Linked DNA regions of Homo sapiens. The protein of the gene in region 1 interacts with the protein of each later gene in a pairwise test. Each region holds a gene or a part of one and is shown on either strand. Other genes may lie near its edges.

Region 1 (10,370 bases):
AGCCTTACTTCAGGCTTAACTAGAAAGTACCCTAAAATCCCCCGCACAGATCTCTTCTCACACCTACCCATGCTTGTTTTGTTTAAGGAGGAATTGCTGAGGCAAAGTATTTCAGTATGTCCAAGGACCCAGAAGTATATTTTCTCCTATCTATAGCTAATCCTTCATAAGCTGTTGTGAGTCTCTATTTACCCACATTAATACCTTATCTAATACCTGCTAGATGCAATGCACCACAAAGCCTGGATTGACCCAACAGTGAGGAGAAGTGGGAGTTGGTGATTTTCTGGAGAATTTAGACTTCGATTTCAAAGAATTCCAGCTTCCTTGTATCTCCCAGCCCCTAACCCCAAATTTGATACAATTGGCTATGTTTTGGTAAAGTTTTGTCAAAACCATCATTGGCTAGTAATGAGCTCTTAATCAGTCAGGTGGTGATAAAGGAGAATCTAGCTTTGCTACTTTGACTTTTCTGTCAGCCTGGGGATTAGTGGGGCTCATCCCTTTTTCCTTATAGATGTTTAGGACAGTGAGCCCTAACCTGAATTGACTGAATATACCAAGAACAGTGAAATGTAGGAATTGTTCCAAAGAACAAATCTCAGTTAATTTCTTAATGGGAGAAGAAATAAAAGGTAGATGACATGAGAAGGACACGTCCTTGCCAAGAGCCCTATGGCGACAGCCACCCGACAGCACAACTATTCGATTAAAGAGGGTCTTATTTGTTGTCTAGGCAGGGGGCCAGATTACTGGAAGTACTAGCAGAAAATCACATTTAATACTACATATAATCATTAAATTATAATGGTATAACAGAAAGGTATGGGCTTTGGAATCACACAATTCTCCTTGGTAATCACCATAGGCCACTTAGCCTTTCTGAGGCTCTATTTACCTGTAAAATGGAAATAATAAGTAGGTGAAGCTTCCAGGATTGTGTGAGAATTTAATAAATAGATACATCATCTAGCAGGGGGCTGGTACATTGTATGCATCAATAAATGTTAATTATTCTCTTCCCCATCCTGTCAACTATAGTACAGTAAAGTTAGAGTTAAGATCCAATATATGTGAATGCATAATTAAGAGAGAAACTCCAGTGTGCATAAGATAACTCAAACCAAAGGATATGTAAGTGATTCTCTCAGGTTTTCACAAGAATCCTCCCTTCTTTTCATAGCCACATTTTAATAATTAAAATTCATGGATTATGTACTCATTAACTACTGAGCACACATTCCATGACAAGTTCTATAATAAATGGTGGGGCAGGGGGCAGTTGAGGCAGAAGACAGTAGAGATATAAAGATTTTAATACCAAAGACAGGGTCTCTTTGAGTTCAAAAAACAAGAAAAGACATGTAAACAACTTATCACCGCTTGTATGTGATAAGGTGGTGGGCACAATGAGTCATGTAGAGGGAACCAAGCTCTGTCAAATTAGCCAAACTTACAAGCTTTCCACTGCTTGTTTTTTGCTTTTGAGATAGAGTCTTGGTCTATTACCCAGGCTGGAGTGCAATGGTGCATTCTTAGCTCACTGCAGCCTCCACCTCCAGGGTTCAAGCAATTCTCTTATGCCTCAGCCTCCTGAGTAGCTGGGATTACAGGAGTGCACCACCATGCCCAGCTAATTTTTGTATTTTTAGTAGAGATGGGGTTTCTCCATGTTGGCCAGACTGGTCTTGAACTCCTGGCCTCAAGTGATCTACCCACCTCGGCCTCCCAAAGTTCTGGGATTACAGGAGTGAGCCACTGCACCTGGCCCCATTGCTTTTTAATATCCATTTCGATTCAGTCTTATCTGTATTTGAACTCTAGCTCTAATTAGTGGCATGATCTTGGGCAAGTCACTTTACCTCTCAAGGCATTTCCCCACCTGCAGAAGGGGAATAACTATCTCTCCTTGTATTTTAAAAGATGATACATACAAAAGGTTCTAACACAGTCAACCATTACAGTTACCTAGTTCATGGTCACTTTTCAAAGGAAACAAAGTTGAAAGTTGAAGTGGAGGCCATTGATGAAAGGGTAGGGCCATTTTATTTCTTAGTATAGAATCTAGCAAAAAAATTAAGGGAGGAAGTTGTAGACTAATGACTGTAATGAACTTAAGGGGCTGTTTCTTGATTTTAATTATCCATGCTATTGCTACCCCCATCACCACAGACAATCAAGAAGCATGAGTCAGCACTGGCATAGCAACATGGCCTAGCAACCTAGTAATGTAGGTTAATGTTTTTCTTTCTCATTAAATGAATAAATGAAGCAACTTCTTGTTTTTTCTTTTCTTCATTTTGGTTTCAGTGACAAAATGTTCCCTGCCTTTGGGTTTGGCGCCAGGATACCTCCAGAGTACACGGTGAGTGAGTGGAGATGTGATCTTCTTCCACTTCACTGTGGTCAAAGGATAACTTGGCTCTTCTTTGCAGCAGTCTCACACTCCTGACTCTGACCTAACTGTGTCAGTAGGGCCTACAGAGTCAGAAATTGTCTTCAGAATCAGTGAGATTAACTCGCCAGGGCCCGTCTCTTGATGAAACCCTATCTCCTGGTATTTTGGATGGGTCTTCTCAGAGGTCCAGATGAAGAGTTTCATTGTTTAGTTTCTTATAAATGTGGTCAGAGTCTGAGAAAACACTCAAGAAGTTGATCTCCAGGGGCTCAGAACCTATTCACTCGTATATCCCCTAGGAAATAGAATTCTATTGGCAATGCCAACTGGGAAAGTCCGTGACAATGGAGTCTACAGACTTTCTTATCCCAAGTCTCCGAGTCCAAGTCTTGTATGGGAGACACAGAGAAGTTTTGAAGAAAGAACTATTATGACTTAGAGAATTGGGAAGCTGAAATGTTCTTCTGAAGACGTTGGAATCCTATTTGGTTTTGATAATGATTTCTCATGACAGAAAAAAGGCAAAGATTGTGTGTAGATAAATTTGCACTGTAATGAGGCTGAGACACTACTGTGATATTCTAGATGCTCCTGTAGAACATTCTCCACAGAGAACTCGTGCCCACTAGGTGGACAGGGCCTTGGAGAGACAGCAGGGTACCTCTCCCAGCCTCCACCTTACCAGTGCCTCTGAGGTCTGAGCTAAGTACAAACAACACTGCCCAATCCTCAATTTCTCTTTTACTGGCTGTGTCTGAGCCACAGGTGAGGAGGTAGATGCTGACATTTGCTCCCTCACTAGAGCCATCATATAAAGGGCTTTCCCCTTAGGTATCCTTTTTGAAAGAGGAAATCAATATCCCTGTTGCTCCTAGAGTGAATAGTGGATGGAATCGCTTGTCTCCCTGACCTGTTCTCCTTCTTTCTTGCCTTGTATTCCACACTGGCCTTTCTGCTGGGCATAGCTACATAATTCTAGAAGCATTTATTAGAAATACAGCTTGTGGAGAGAAAGAATATAGAACAAGAGTTATCAACTGGTGGCCTATAGACATTATTCAGGCCACAAATATGTTATATTTGACACACTTTTAAAAAACGAATTCAGCAATTGCATATATAAAATGTCAGATTTCTGGTTTCTCTTGAAAACCTGAAAGGCCTGGCAACACTAAGATTAAAAGATGACCGATACAAGAATAAGCTGGAGCTGAGGAGATATAGGCCCCTTCAAATCGGGAATGTAAACAGGTGAATGCCCACTTTCTTCATAGAGCTGCTGAATAGCTCAATAGCCATCAGCCCAACTACCCAGGGATTCTTGAGTTTTCACCACATCCCCACCAGGTGGTCTTCCAGCCTCAGGTTGGCCCAACAGGGCTGAGGACAGAGCTATGCACCATACCTTTTTCTCACTAATGACATCTTTTTGGTTCCCTTCCTGGAGTAACTAATCTTTCTTGCTGTTTTCTGAAGTCCTCTTGTTCACTTGATCCCCTAACTCCATCCTTCCTGTCAGCAAAATCCCCTGGTTATTCTTGTTTCAATAGGCATCTCTCACATTTCCCCATTTCGGGTCCCCTAATTTCTCCCATTCCTCAGACAAGCACTGATGATTTGAGCAGCTCAGGTGCCCCCAGGAGAGTTTACAAGGTTGCCACAATTTACTTCTTAGGACAAAATCTGAAAGTATGCATTGAAACTGAAACACAAGCACCTCTCTTTCTTAGTTAGCACTTTCTCAGAAACAGATCTTGAGACAAGGGTTTGGATGCAAATAGTTTATTTAAAAGGTGAGGGAAACCACAATAGAGGTTGGGAAGTGGAAGTCAGCACAGAGTATATTATCAAGTCAGTTACCGCTGTTGGCAACTGGTGCTTAACTCTGCTGAAGAACCCTAGGAGACAATATACAGCACACATGGACCCCAAGGGATAAGGGAGCTGGGATATGTATACATCACCTCCTGTTAATTACTGATTACTCCCAAGGGTCACTTTTAGCCTGTCACTTGGGCAAGCAAGGCAGGCCCTGGAGGCCAAGAAAAAACTTAAGGTAAACAAAGCAAATAAGATGACTGAAGTCAGCTGGCTTACCTGGAAGTGCTAAGAGCAAGGGACTAGGATAAGCACTGAGAGCATCACCGATCACCTCCCACTAAGAAAACAGGTGTCTTTTAACACAGTGACCTAATTTATGGATACCCAAAAGAGTCAGAGCTTGGAAATATCCTTTGAAATGAAATTCTCCATAAAATACCAAATGATTCAATAAAAATGTCCAGATGCCAGAACATCTATCTTGTTTTATCAGGTTTTCGGAAAGAAAAAAGTAAACAATATGTTATTTGACCTTGTGCATAGGTTCTGCCAGGTAGAGGAATTTGTGTTGAAATATTACAAAGTATATTACTTTACTATGTTTCCAAAAGTAGAGTGCAGTCTGTTTTACCTGTAGGTATGTGAAAATCCTCCTGCCCTGTAGTTCTGCATATCATGTTAATGATTCTTAAGTGTCAACTGCTTAGCTGAAGCTTTTATAACCATCGCTATCTTCAGCAGACAGCTTGGGTTATTGAGTTTTTTTGTTTTTATTTTTGTTTTAATCACTGGGTCCAAATAGAGCTCAGCCAAATCTAAGCCTCCAGTCTGTGGCCAGTTCTAACTAGCAGCTATTCAAAGTTATCTTTCTGAAATCTTTTCTTGGATTTTTTTATAAGCCTTATTCTCCCCTCCTGACAGCATTTATCTGATTCTAGAAAATATTCCTGTCACCTCAACTCCACAGGGAGCTTAGAATTCACCCTCCATCTCATATTGATTGTGTAAAGGCTTGAAATGGTTCCTGCTGCTTAACACATAATGAATATAATGGGCATTTGTTTGCAAACTCTAAACCCCAGTGCCTTCTTACTGGATTAAAGTTGTAATTCTTCTTTCTTCCTGTTTTTTAAATTTTAATCGGTGTCTAGGTCTCTCATGACTTTGCAATCAACTTTAATGAAGACAACCCAGAATGTGCAGGTAAAGCACAACGTGAAAGAAAGCCAGTGTCACAGTCCTTCCCTTTGCAGCTTTCCCATTTTAGTTCATCTCTGCTGGTGTAGCATATTAGTTACGATTGTCCACAGAATCTCTGCTTTCTGTATCAACATAAACCATGCTACTCCACAGGCAAGAGAAAGCCATGATAACAGAGCAGGAAAATAAGAACTGGAAAAGACAGAATGCAGAAGAGGTGGTCTTGAGTGTATGGCAATAATGTTGATCCCAGTCTGGGATTCCTTGGGCCATAATAATAATAATAATAATAAATGAAACTTCACCTGGTAGGCAGTGATACAATATCCCTCTTTCTGTTTTCCAAATTTTCATCAAGTGTTTTTTTTTTTTTTTTTTCACAACTTCATCTCTGTGCCGATATAAGGAGAGGGGGGAACATGGAAATCATTTCCCACTTTCGGCATATCGGCCAAGGACATGGCCTCAGCGAGTTTGAACAAGCAGCATCATGGCTTTGTGCCAGAGAAAGCCTGCTCAAAGGTTCTGGTTCATGTTCCATTGTTTCCAGCCAGAATTCTCTGACATGATTTCACAAAATAATGATATTGAAACTATGATAATAATTATTATAATAAATTTTGTTCTAGAATGATTTTTTCTGTTTTCTAACAGAGCCAAGTACCTATGTTGCTATGAAGATCATAAGACATTTTTGCATTAGAAATGTCCATATCTCTCTCTTCTTGTCAAGGAGGAAGGAGGCTAAATCAGGATTAATTCAGATCCAGTAGAGTGTGTAAGGCATCTAGCAGTTAATGGCCAAGAATATGATATCAATACCATTGAGTCTGAACACAGTAACCTCCAAGACCCAATCTCCATTCTGCCATTTTTTCCACTAATGTATTCTTCATCCTCAGTTTATTATGGATTAGACTTTCCTCATCCCCAACCACCCCCATTCTGCAACTGTAAGAGTGGTTTCCCCCACAGCAGAATGAAATATAAACCCTGGTATTCACCTGTTTTATACTCTTAGAATTCATCTGCCTGATACTTTTCAAGAGGAAATCAAACTTGCTTATCTTAGGCAAAAGCTCAAGAACCAAAAAAACATAAGGAGCTTCTATTCAGCATCACTTAACTTCAGAACCAGACTGCAAAATGACTTGGCATCTGTCTTTAGAATGATAGGCTTTGGGGCAGGGCCAAGTGGGTGCAGGATTGCCAATGAGGTTGGGAGCATGTATGTAAGGGCAGAACAGAACAGAACTTGCTCATCTAAAATACCCAAGAGCTATTTTGCAGTGCATGGTGGTTATGGAGAATAATCTCAGGAGGGAATTGTGTGGATCCCTCTGGCCAAAAACAGGACTAATGTGCTATTTCAGAATAGAAAGGGATAGAAGGATAAGCTGAATAGGGGAAGGCAAGCAATAACACAGGCACAGACAACAAGAGAAGCCATTTGAATAAAAATCATTTGTAATGAGATTATTGCTGTGGGATCAGAATGATAACATGAAATGTACAGTCAAGATGTATCAAGTACTAGGAGAAGCTGTATAGATAGGACTGCCTCTCCTGGCAGAGTCCCATCCTTTTCTATTTCCTGGGCTCATATGGCCTCAGGATGGAAGCCCCCTTTTAAATGAGGGGTTGTCCGTGATGATAACCATCACTTATCTGTACTCAGTGCCCAGGAGATGAGTATATCAGCCACTTTGCTCATTCATCACACACTTGGTGAGCATTACATTTGCTCGATACTGCCTCAAGCTCTTTGGGGAAATACAAAAAATAAGTAAGTCATGATTCCTGCCCGCAGAGTATAACATCTGGAGAGATGGTCATGGGAACTCCTGACTCTTATAGAGGGCACGGGTAGTATCTACTAGAGTCAACAAGATCGTGTGGAAACAAGTGCAACATTGAAGCTAGCTTGCTAGTGGCTAAGAACACAGTGCTTAGAGCCAGGCAGACCCAAGTTTAAATCCTGAGTCTTGAACACACTTGCTATGTGACCCAGGGCAGATCATTGAACATCTCTAAGCCTCTGTTTCTTCACCTATAAAATGGGTATAACATCTATTTCATTATGCTATGAGGAGCGAATGAAATCTTATATATAAAGTAGGATATTAGGGAAAATTTTGTGGAAATCGTTGCTTTTGACTTTAGCTTTTAAAGAGGAGAATGATTTCAGTGGGGAAGGAGACAGCAACACTAGCAATGTGGTATTCCTTTTTATCTTAAGAACATAAACATGATGTTGATAAGGACTATTTGGGATATTTAATGCTTTACTTTTGTGTGTGTTTGGCTATAAATATATTTGGAGTGACTCTGGAGCTGTTGATCTTTGCCAATTTCACCTCAGGAATTCAAGGAGTTGTGGAAGCCTATCAGAGCTGTCTTCCTAAGCTCCAACTCTACGGTCCCACCAACATTGCCCCCATCATCCAGAAGGTTGCCAAGTCAGCGTCAGAGGAAACTAACACCAAGGAGGCATCGGTAAGGAGGGGGCTATTTGCCTCCTAAGGGGAGCTTACTCTTCCTCACCTGGATATTGGCCGTAAGACCCATCTCACTCTAACAATAAATTCCAACACTTCTCCCTGTGTGAATTTGGACAAATGACTTAACCTCCTCCTATCCTCAGTCTTGACATCTGAAACATGGGGATAATCAAACCCATCTTTGCTGGGTTGTGAGGCTAAGAGATGACACATGTCAAATGTCTACCACATTGTCTGAACACAGGAGAAACTCAACAATGGAAGCTACTATATTCACTAAAGTATGTCATATCCACCTCCTGTCCTTGAAAAGAAAAAAGAAAGGTTTAAAAATAAGCTTGCTTTTTAAGGTACCCATACTACAGATGGAAGCAAAGCACCATGGAAGTAAAACAATGGATGATTCTGCCTCCTGGTGGTAAAGCGCAGCAGCACAAAACATCACAGCAAAAATTGGTTTCATATTCTATTGCTTTTCTTAAGAAAAATGCAAACCAAGACCAGAGTTTGAGTTTTGCCCCTAATATTTTAGAAGTAAATATATTACCACAATAACTTCTGTATTTATTTTAATAACATTAATACATGTCTTTTTAGCTTTATGATTTTTTCCAGATTTAGTGGAATATTACCAATGTCTGAAGTTTGCTCTGTAATTTTATCCTGGGTACTGAGTTTTTATTTAAAAAAATACTACTCCCTTATCTTCTTACATCAATTCATCTAACCTTCTTGCACTGTCTTCATGTTCTCAGCCTTCCTTCATGTTAGAATGGATGGAGGACCATGCTCCTACCTCATGTCAACATCTTCTTTTGTGTACTTGAGCACATCTCTGAATTATCCAGGAACTTTGACTCTGCAGTTATATTCTCGCTCTTTCTCCTATCATCTATTGTTTTCTTTTCTACTTCCCTTTGTACTGAAGACTCATTCCCATTAACAAGTACTCATTCAATAATATCTCCTGCTTTAAGTTAATATCTCCCCCTTGACTCTGCTTTGCCCTTTAGCTACTGTCCTTAACTTTTTCCCACTTATAATCTGCACTCCATGCAGAAACCAGATTGATCTTTTAAAAATATAATTAGTATTGCAGCATTCCTTTGTTCTAAATTCTCTAATACTTCTCATCATACTTGGAGTAAAATCTAAATTCCCTGATATGGCTTAGAAGACATTATAGGATCTAATCTCTGCCTACCTCTCTGATCTTAATTCTTATCATTTTCTCTTTCGCTCCCTATATTTCAGCCACACTGACCTTCTTGCTGTTCCACAAACACACCAAATATATTCCCACCTTGAGGCCTTTTCACTTACTGTTCCCCTGCCAGGGTTTCTCTCACCCAAACCTCCATATGATCCATTCTCTGACTGTGTTAACATCTCTTCTCAACTCTCAACCCCTCTGAAAGTTCCCCCTGGCTACCTTATCTAAAATAGCCAACCCACCCACCCGCACCATGTCTCAGCTTTACTTTTCTTCTTAGTACCCATCATCATCTGAAATATTTTAGGTGCATCTACTAACCTGTATATTTTATGTCTCTCTACTTTCATATGGAAGCTCTACAATAAGACTTGTTCACTAGTATATCCCTAGTACACAAAACAATGCCTGCACACAGTACATGCTTAATAAATACTACTTAAAGAACGCATATAAAGCCACTCTACTTTTCATATATATATATAATGAAAAGTACTTTACATTTTCTTTTGTAAAACTGGTGTGTATCTTAAATATTGCACATCTTGTACGCCAGAAAATACAGTGTTCCTGTTTTCATTATAATTTGAAGTCTCTCCTACTTAAAAAGATCCAAATTCCCAAGGTCCCTAGAGAGAACAACAGTCACTGCATGTCTTTGGTTCAGTCCACTGGCCCTTCCATACATCTCATTATCATCTTCAGCTACTCCGGGCTTGGGTCATTGAGTGACATGAGCAATTCCTACAAGGGAATAGGAAGTTTGAAGCAAAATTTTGTTTTAGACTCATAATTTTTCCATGTCCTTTTATTAACATAGTTGACCACAGTTTCAATCTGCTACACAACATCCATCAGGTGACCCATAGCTATCCATAAGAAACAAATGGGTCTGATCTGTGGGGCATGTTCTCTCATCTCCTCTGTTCATTACATCATGTTCTTGAAATCACTAACCGGTGGTTTGACTGTGAAAAGGACTGGAGACCCTGGGGAGCTAAGTGTGTGTTACTTCAAATAATTACTTTAGAATAGTGAATATATAAAACTGTGGATATATTAGCCTTTATGCTGGGCAGAGACACTCTGTAAGCTGAGATCTTGTCCAGCAGTAATGCTGAGGATTTAATCCAAGCCAAGTCTTTTCCAGGTGTGAAAGCTAAGAAAATCATGACTCCTCTCTGCTCATTTTTCCTCTTCTTTTCAGAAGCCATGAACACTATTAGGTTTTTTTTTT
Region 2 (10,370 bases), on another chromosome or scaffold:
AGGAGTCTTTGTATCCCTAGGTTTCACAAATATTAAATCCCAAAGTAATGTTGATGCTGAAGGGAAAGCAAATTATCACAATCCTAGAGATTTTAATGATACCTGCAGGTTGTAACTCTTGTTTTTTTGTTTTTTTTTTGAGATGGAGTTTCGCTTTTGTTGCCCAGGATGGAGTGTAGTGGCGCGATCTCTGCTTACTGCAACCTCCGCCTCCTGGGTTCAAGTGATTCTTCTGCTTCAGCCTCCAGAGTAGCTGGGATTGCAGGTATCTGCCACCACCATGCCGGGCTAATTTCTTTGTATTTTGAGTAGAGACAGGATTTCATCATGTTGGCCAGGCTGGTCTCGAACTCCTGACCTCAGGTGATCCACCTGCCTTGGCCTCCCAAAGTGCAGGAATCACAGGTGTGAGCCACCATGCCTGACCTGCAGGTTGCAACTCTTGACTGTGAAGGGCATCACAAAATCTTCCTTTACAACATAAAAAAACTGATGAATTGGCTGGGAGTGGTGGTTCAAGCCTGTAATCCCACACGTTGGAGGCTGAGGTGGGTAGATCACCTGAGGTCAGGAGTTCGCGTCCAGCCTGGCTAATATGGTGAAACCCTGTCTCTACTAAAAATACAAAAATTAGCTGGGCATGGTGGCAGATGACTGTAGTCCCAGTTACTCGGGAGGCTAAGACAGGAGAATTGCTTGAACCCGGGAAGCGGAAGTTGCAGTGAGCTGAGATTGCATCACTGCACTCCATCCTGGGCTACAGAGTGAGACTTTGTCTCAAAACAAACAAACAAACAAAAAACTGGTGAATTTTTGTTTGCATCTTTCTAGCTTTTAAGATCTTTCTGAACCCCAGATGACTGTTAGATTGGTCTCCTCAGTGTTCTGGGTCCTCACCAACTGCTCCTGTGTAGCACTCCTTTCACCTAGAATTCCTTTCATTCATTCACTTTCATATGTTTACCATGCAGTTGTAGTAAGTAGAGGGGACTTATGCAAAGTCTCTGCCATCTAAAAACTCAATGTCTAATGGGGGAGATAAACAAGGAAGGGGCTGAGATAAGTAGATATAAATAGAGGGCACTATGGGAATACATGGTAATGAGGTGGGAAGTATAAATGAGCAGTGAAGGCTTCCCAGAGAAAGTACTGTCCAATCAGTGACAAGACAGACGAGGAGAAGTGAGCCAGATGAGAGATGGGTAACATGAGATGGGTGAGACGGATCCCTCTAGAGAGAATCTCATTCTGCCATTAAAATTCATCCTAAAGTTCCACTTCAAGTCTTGTCTTCCCATCAGGCGTTTTCACTGGTCTCTTGATTGACATCATAGGAAAGGTATAGTTTTTCTCTCTCTATCTTTTCCTCACTGATGAAGGTCCCAGGGCTCTCCTCACTTTTGGTGGCCAGCTGATAGGAAGATATAGCCTTGGGAGAGGAGACACAGTCCCTTTAGGTTTGGGCATAATTCACGTGCTTCAGTCTGGTTCATCAGATATTACGGGCATAAATCCATAGTGGTACCTTATTTTCTGTTTGCTTGTTTATGCATTTCTTTATAAACCTCTCAGGGGGAATATCACAGATTTGGGGTGGGATTTTGTCATTCCTGGGTGTCTTAGTCAAATGCCATACAACAGCACCCCTTAAACTGCAGTCAGACATGTAACATTTCCCATTATTTGAAGCTGTTTTTGAGTGAGAAATCCAGAAGTAAAAGGTTCGTTAATCCTCTAGTGCCTTCTACTTTCCTTAAAGTCTATATTGTCATGCTCCTTCTCATTAAGCACAGCTGCTAGGCAGCTGCTGGCAGCAGTCACAAGAGTTCAAGGCTAGCCTGTGGCCTAACACAGAAAACAGTTGTTCATTAAACATTCACAGCATGGTGGTAAATGCAGAGCACAGGTTTTCAGGGGATGACTGTAGAAAAAAACAAAAGCGCAGGTGAAGAAGGGGAGTAGAGCACTTTTTCAAGCCTCTTCTCAGGTGGCAGATGACTGATTCTAAAAAGGGAGTTCCCATTTTATTTCCAGAAAGTCCAAACAAAAGAAACAACACAGGAGGCCTCATTTTTCTCATTAGGAACATGAAATCCATTTCACTGTGCTTCAAGACATTCAGTTATCCTCTGCTCAAAGCTGAGGAGGTGGGTTTTGCTTTTCTAAAGTGAATTGTTATACTTTGCCATTTGGTATAGAATCACCCAACGCAGTGAAAACAGGAAGTTTATGATGTAGAGGATGCTTCACAGATCTGCTAAAGAGTACTTCCCTGTGACAGTCAGCTGCATGGGCTCATTAGATTCTGGAATTACAGGATTTTTTGTTAGAAGTTGGTGGTGCTCACTCATTTTGACATTGTAAACACATGGTTGAAAATTCCACTATTTTGGAGATGTCCTAATAATTATGTATCAGTTAATTTGTTCAGGAAAATTGGTCCTGCAGGGTAGTCTATTATCAGCCTGTTCAGAAAACTTACTGTTTCCTTCTCTCTAATTTAAGATGTAAAAGTTAGATAAAGCACATCTATAAGTTTAAAGTAACACATCTGCCAAAATATGCCCCAGGAGCAAGAGTTTTGCAAGCTTCTCTAGCTTGCAAAGTATAAGCAATGACAACTCAGAAAAATATCAACTGTTGGCTGGGATCACCTTGATGTGTGCCCTACACATTTTTAGTATAGGTGTCTCTTAAGCATTAGTGCCTTTATTTATATAGCTATTGCAATATGACTACTTATTTTCTCAGTGATACCTATTGGTGGCATTGAATTTTGAAATAATTTCCATCATTCACTTTTCTCCATTTCCTGAAATAATTAGGCTTACTGAATTATCAGGTCTCCCAAGTATATCCAGGTTCATGTAGTCTGTAAGGGTCTTTCCCATCATTTCCACATTTTCAAAATTACACCAAATTAACAAGGAAGGGGTTGAGATAAGTAGATATAAATAGGGGGCACTATAGGAATACACGGTAGTGAAGTGGGAGGTATGAATGAGCAGTGAAGGCTTCCCAGAGAAATTACTGTCCAATCAGTGACCAGACAACCAAAGAGAAGTGAGCCACATGAGAGGTGGGTAACAGGAGGTGGGTGAGACGGATCCCTCTAGAGAGACTCTCATTCTGCCATTCAAATTCATCCTACAGGTCCAGTTCAAGTCTTGTCTTCCCACCAGGCTTTTTCACTGATCTCTTGATTTTGCAAGACAAGCTCAAATAGAGAAACTCCATGAAATTGACTTTCTCATCCTTCCATCCCTCTATCCATATTTAATCTTTTAATATTCTGAAAACAATTGGCAATGTATTTCCTCTTCTCTACGGTATTTATTATCACTTTGTTCTTTGCAGTATAGTTTTTGTGTTCATGTCTTATTTATATGATAGACTTAGGCTTCCTTAAGGATTGACATTATGTTAAATGTATCTTTATATTATTCATAATACTTTAAAGTCTTCTCCATCTACTAAATTTTCAATTAAAATTTGTTGACTCAGCTGGGCTCAGTGGCTTACACCTGTAATCCCAGCACTTTGGGAGGCCAAGATGGGTGGATCATCTGAGGTTAGGAGTTCAAGACCAGCCTGATCAACATAGTGAAACCCCGTCTCTTCTAAAAAATACAATAAATTAGCTGGACGTGGTGGTGTGTGCCTGTAATCCCACCTATTTGGGAGGCTGAGGCACAAGAATTGCTTGAACCCGGGAGGCAGAGTTTGCAGTGAGCCAAGATCGTGCCACTGCACTCAAGCCTGGGTGACAAAGTGAGACTCCATCTCAAAAAAAAAGAAATATATATATATACACACACACATATATGTATATATATACACACACACACATATGTGTGTGTGTATATATATACACACATACACATATATGTGTGTGTGTGTATATATATACACACAGACATATATATACACGCACACACACACATATATATATATATATATATATATATATATAGTTTACTAAATGACTGACAGTAAAAGAAAAAGTAGAATGGTCTTTTTAGAGGCAAATAATAAGGCAAGCAACCAGTGGAGGTCACTGTCATTCTTTTTAAATATATCAATTCTCTTTTTTAGTTTTTGCTAGTGTAAGTACAATGCCTCTCAATTGTTTTTTCATGAACATAGAGTCACTAAATAGACATCAGATGAAAACATGTAAATTGCCTTTCTTGACGGGTTTGCTCCTCAGTAGTTTCCATGGCACATTCCAGGGAATTCTGGAGAGACTGCAGCTGATTCAGGGTTTCCTTCAATAAAAATCTAGTTACGAATTGTTCCAAATTGGAGGCTTCTTGGTAGTCCTAAGGGTGACAAAACAAATGCAATTAGAAGTATGGTAGAAAAAAATACCCAGGATTTTTTTTTTTTCTTTTACCATGTACCCATCAATCCCAGATTGATCCTAGAGAGAGAGGGTGGAGAGAAGGGAAAAGATCTGTCGAGCCCTGGAGGCTACAGCATCACTCTCATCCACCCACCAGGAGATGAATAAAAAAGCTGCAGAAATGACTGGAATATCTTGCCTCCCAATATACCTGCCTCAAGATTAAGAAAAAGGACAAAACCAGCAGAGTTGCAAAATAGACATCTGTAGAAAAGAAAAAATAAATATCCGGTGGCGGAGGGGGAAGATCAGAATGTGACTAACTCAGGGTTTGTTCTATGTCTCATTTGAATGTTGACCACGCCATCATATATTTTCACTATTACCAACAAAATGCAACCATGTTTCAGCAATTGGCTTAATTCACTCTTGATGTATTTATTATGCTTGATCCGTATTATGCTGAAGACAAAGAAAATTATGTGTAGTTATTTAAAATTCAGAAAATGTTAGGATTGGAGTATTTAAATGGTTTACTAAATCTGCTTATGTCTTTCCTTCAGTAACTTTACCTGAGGCTCATTGACAATTAACTTCTAGGACAACACCTGAGCCACAAAAGCAGCATTCACTGAAACAGCCCCAGGGTCACTGCAGAGGTCACTGCAGACTGAATAAGTGTACTTGCCAAGCTTACTCAAGGTAGATGGGTGAGCTGTGGATGGTACCACCTGCTGTGCTTGTCTCCCTAAAGTCTCAGGGAGAACCAACAACAAAAACCAGGTTGGTGTGGAATAAGATGGTGACAGGGCCACTCTTTCAGATCATGGGACCAGCCAGTGAAATCTGATTTTCTAGAATCTTGAGTGGAAATGGTACATTCAAGTTCAGCCAAGGAAAAGATTTATTTGTCTCTGTCCCTAAACAAAATTTTTTTATGGCTGAAAAGACAAAACACAAAACGACTGAGGGTGATAACACAATACCACGGATCCTGATATGCTGAAGAAGCTTAGGGCATAGTTATAAACCCAAACAAGTAAGATTTAGGTATCTAACCTTCCTGGTTCTCAGTTTTCCCACTTATAAATCACTAAGTAACTCTGGCATACATTCCAACTCAAAAATATTCTGTGCTTCTATCAACTTTAATTTAGGAAGAATTGGACTATGGCCTCCTGATATAGTTTACTTTGGAAGTTTTTCTAATAGAAGAATAATGTAATAGCATAGAAAATCTCATTTCTTTCTCAATTTGAAATAGTAAAAAGTTTCAATCATCAGCCTCTTTTTAAGCTCATTCATTACAGGTGAACAACACAGGAAATTTTCTTATCTACTGAGATGGTTAATATTGAGTGTAAACTTGATTGGATTGAAGGATGCAAAGTATCGTCCTTGGGTGTGTCTGTGAGGGTGTTGCCAAAGGAGATTAACATTTGAGTCAGTGGACTAGGAGGGGCAGACCCACCCTCAATCTGGGTGGGTACCAACTACTACAGCTGCCAGAATGGCTAGAATAAAGCAGGCAGGAGAAGATGGAAGAGCAGACTTGCTGAGTCTTCTGGCCTTCATCTTTCTTCTGTGCTGGATGCTTTCTGCCCTCAAATATCAGACTCCAAGTTCTTTGGCTTTTGGACTCTTGGACTTACACCAGTAGTTTGCCAGGGGCTGTCAGGCCTTTGGCCACAGACTGAAGGCTGGACTGTTGGCTTCCCTACTTCTGAGGTTTTGGGACTCAGACTGATCCACCACTGGCTTCCTTGCTCCTCAACTTGCAGAGGGCCTATGTGGGACTTTACTGTGTGATCATGTGGTGTGAATCAATTATCCTTAATAAACTCCCTTCATATAAACATCTATCCTATTATTTCTGTCCCTCTAGAGAACCCTGACCAATACATCTACCATATATAATAGTCCTATTTAAAAATTAAAAATTGCAATGTCTTTAAACTCCATTTAAGAAACTAACCGTAAACTAAACATAACCATTACATGCTTATAATAATCTTAAGAGTTTTGGGTGAGTTAAATCAAGCTAAAAATATTCCAAATATTTAATTTGATCTCATAGCTTGCTATTTATTGGTTAAAAAAAAACTTCAAAAAATTCTCTCTGAATGAGTTTTTAAAATTGAGGAAGGCTTTTCTTTGAGGTTGAAAGAAAATGTGATGATAGAAAAAAAGGTGTGTTTGAGTCTTTTCCCACAGTTATTTCCATATCACCAATGGATATTTTAAAAAATAAAATTTATTAAAATGAAGATAAAATATAATTGCAAAGTCAGGGATTATACCAACTATTTTCGCATCTCAGTATATACTATGACTAATATAAAGCAAATGATAAAAAGTTTTATACTTATTTGTAGACTGCATTGAAAAATGAAGAAAGCAAACATTTACTGAGCAATAAAGCATAGCATTGTCCTTACTCTTTTCTCATTTAAATGTTAAATATTTGCCATGTCAGAATTATAGAAAAGAGATTAAAAAATTATAGTTAGTCATTTTAAACATTCCAGTCATTGCAATTAGGTTTCAGCTTCTTTGACAGAAAGGTCATGTCTTTTATTTCTGTATCCCTTATGGTGGAGTAGAGGTTCATTCATACCTGATAGTTTGCAGATACACTCCTAACTCTAAGAATTTATTGCATTTGCTATTGTGATCTTACATACAAATATTTTGATGATGTTAAAGTTAGATAATTAAGAAAAGTTAAAGTCAGACAACTGGCCACTCATCATTGCTCCACCATAGCAAATCAGAAAGTTATGATTAGGCTAACCCTCTTATCTCACTCTGATGAGAGTTTGATAACCTTACTAGTGACTCTGTAGGTAACATTGAAAAGTGGCAGAACCCAGTTGGTTGATACATTTCTTTGATATAAATGTTGATGCCTTGAAATTGAGAGGGGTGGTGGGTGGGTTTAAGGTTTGGAGGATTAAATTTTTTGAGTCAATTATGAAGGTTTGCTGTTTTATACTACCCCTCATTGATAAGGAGGAAAAAAACCTTGTTTTCTAATATTCCTACTTATCCTTCCAGACTCAGCTTGTAACACTGTCTCTGTACAGATGTTCCTTTCCTTGAACCACCACTTCTCTTCATAGGATTAGGAATACATCTTTCCACTTCTATGTATTTTTGTGACATTTCTTCCCTACCTAGGATATAGAATTTTTCATAGGATGTAGAATTTTTCATTGTGATGTTGTGATCTGTTGTTCATTTGTCTATCTTCCCCATTTTAGGCTAGCTCTTTAAGCACAGGGATTATGTCTTATTCATCTCTGCCTCCAGAGTACTCAGAACAAAATTGCCTCATAGCAGCTGCCCCATAAATGCTTAAGAAATGTGTGAGAAACCGGGTCCCACATGGAGAGTCAGGCACCAGAGGGAGTGTCCAAGCTCTGGGAAGTACTCTTGCCACTGGCTGGTCACCACCTGCCTCCCCCTGCATCCAGCCCTTGCTGGTTGTAGACATTACCACCCGACTTGCCCAGTCATGTGGGCTCTGCAATAAAGAAAAATACAGCTTTGTTCTAACAGACTGTTTGTCCTCATTTTATTTTCTGGACCATTTGTTAGTCTCCTTCCCTTCCCTTATTCTGGATCTCAAGGTTTGAGACTGCAGACCCGGGTGGCACAGATCCAATCTTCCTTCCCTTTTCTCAGATATGCAGCAGATGTTCCTTTGGAAGGCAGTGGCAAAAGAAGCAGATGGAAAATTAAATAGATAACAAGCTGGAAAATGTCAAATCCTGGCCCTTTTAATTCTCAGCAAATGTGTTGGTAGCGAAGGTACAAAAAGAGATTTTTTGCATTCCTAATTCCCCAAAAGACTGGTATGTTGGCATAAGGCATGCATTCCTTTGAGCAAAACCTGTATTTGAGAGACTGGCAGAAAGAACTCCTACAGACAAAATAAAGTAGTTTAAAAATGTACAGATTATACTCATTATTCAGATTTTGCTTCTTTTTTTTTTCAAACGCAGTTTAATCCTCCATGTCTATCAGAAAGAATATGGGAAAGTAAAAGTTAACGTTATACTTCTCAGATCCTAATAATGTTCATTCGTGTCATGATAATTATTAGTTACACAAATCATTAAGTGGAAATTGTCAACAAAGTAGTATTAATACCTCCATTTTTGTCTGCGGAAAGCCAAAATGTAAACATTTCAATCTACACATTTCCTTTGGTGGAGCTGGAACAGGGCTAGAATTCATTTGAGTAAAAATCCTAGCATTGGAAGCATAGTGCTTTGAATCAGGTTTCTTAGAAAACTGTCTGTGCATCTTAATTTTCACATCATTTCTCAGTAAGCAAGCTCTGCCCATCAGGTTGATAGAATCATCTGAGTTAATTAGGAAAATTAGAGCATCAGTCTTCCCTGTTTGAAAATCAATCAAGTCAGTGACATCTAGGGTTAGTGTATTCTTGTTTATGAGGTCAGATAACAATCACATTTAGCAAGGGGCACTGCTTCTGACTGTCTTTTGGATTAACTCCCTGCAGCTCTCGCCATTCTTGTGTAAGACATCTGCAGCAGCTTCTATAACAGAAAAAAAAATAACTTTACAAAGATAAGGTTGTCTTTTGCTCTTTTCTACTCTATCCACAATTATTACTTTTTAAAATACTAAGTGGGCTACACACATTATCTATGTCCCACTTCTTTTAAATATTCTCAGGCTTTTATTTTAAATGGCACATTTTTTTTTTCCAAACTGGGAGACCACTATATCAAATTTAAGCCTTATAAAAATACAAAAATAAAGAACTGGCTCTTACTTGTCCTAATAATGGACAGAGGTTAATTCCAGCTAGTCTTTGCAAACCTTAGATGGCAAAACAAGATATCAAAATAATTTCAGACTACAGATTCCCAAGGATTAAGGAAATGATAGATTCTCAGATTAGTGAACGAGGAGACAAAATTATAATTTTGGATTAAATATTATTAAACAATTAATAAATTGAAATAAATTCTGAGCCCTATCTTAACCAGATATTCTGTAGTTTGAAATAAGTTGATACTTTAGAGATGAATTATATTAAGACCTTTACGTTGACAAACTCCACTTTAAAGGGCTCATCTTAAAGTCATCAAGAACTTATTTTGTGTAGGATTCTTTCCTCTGGCTCCTCCTATTGTTCTGTCTCATATCAGGAGACCCTAACAAGAACATAAGACTACTTGGATGTCTTTGCCTAAAGGACAATCCCATTCTGCTGGGAAGTAATCCTCTTCAAACATTAGGAATTTTAGAAAAATGCACATGGGTATGAGGATGGGGACATCTAGAGAGTCAGCCCAAATCTGAGATTAACTACTAGATGAGGACCCAGGTCACATTCATAGGTGTCTAATAACATAATGTAGTGGTTAAGAAGCTGGCTCTGAAGACAGTCACACTTACGTTCTGTGTTTATGCCACTTGACAGCTGTGTGAACTTTGGAAAGTATTCAACCTTTTAAAATCCCTATTTCCTTAACTATGGATAAGAATAGTTATCATAAGTTTGTTGCAAGTATTAAAATTAAATACAGCATGTGGCACACACAGTAGGGTATCTAGCTCATAATTTTTGATAAATGCTCATTATTGCTATTAACCCATTGGAGAAAGGATATTATAAAGTGTAATGGACAGATCATTGGCTCAAACTTCACAAGACCTGGGTTTGTTTGCTGTGATAATACTTCACCTCAGAATTATTGCTAGGACAAATATGTAGCTAGTGTTTGGCACATAGCAGGCTCTTCACAAATATTAATTTTCCTGAGTTATTTTTGACACATATTTTCTACTGCATATCTGCTACCTTGCTTATTCAAAAATGTACACCTTTTATATACATACTTGTTACCAGATTGAAGCTGTGATCCATGGAATTTGGTGTTTGAGGAGTGTCAAGTTTAATATGTAGAGTTCAAGTGCAAAATTTATCAAAAATTTTTCCATTCTTGACTTGATTCGCCTCAAGTATAGTAAATTAGTAAATTAG

Evidence for each region.
Region 2: the proteins of CPNE4 (region 1) and NECAB1 interact in binary tests that used the Homo sapiens proteins (3 or more experiments, as listed by UniProt).

Annotation. Positions count from the first base shown.
Region 1 is NC_000003.12:131,547,492-131,557,861, reverse strand, and holds part of CPNE4 (copine-4), read left to right. Parts: intron 1-2,310; coding exon 2,311-2,365; intron 2,366-5,370; coding exon 5,371-5,422; intron 5,423-7,781; coding exon 7,782-7,915; intron 7,916-10,370.
Region 2 is NC_000008.11:90,911,444-90,921,813, reverse strand, and holds part of NECAB1 (N-terminal EF-hand calcium-binding protein 1), read right to left. Parts: intron 4,323-10,370; coding exon 4,186-4,322; intron 1-4,185.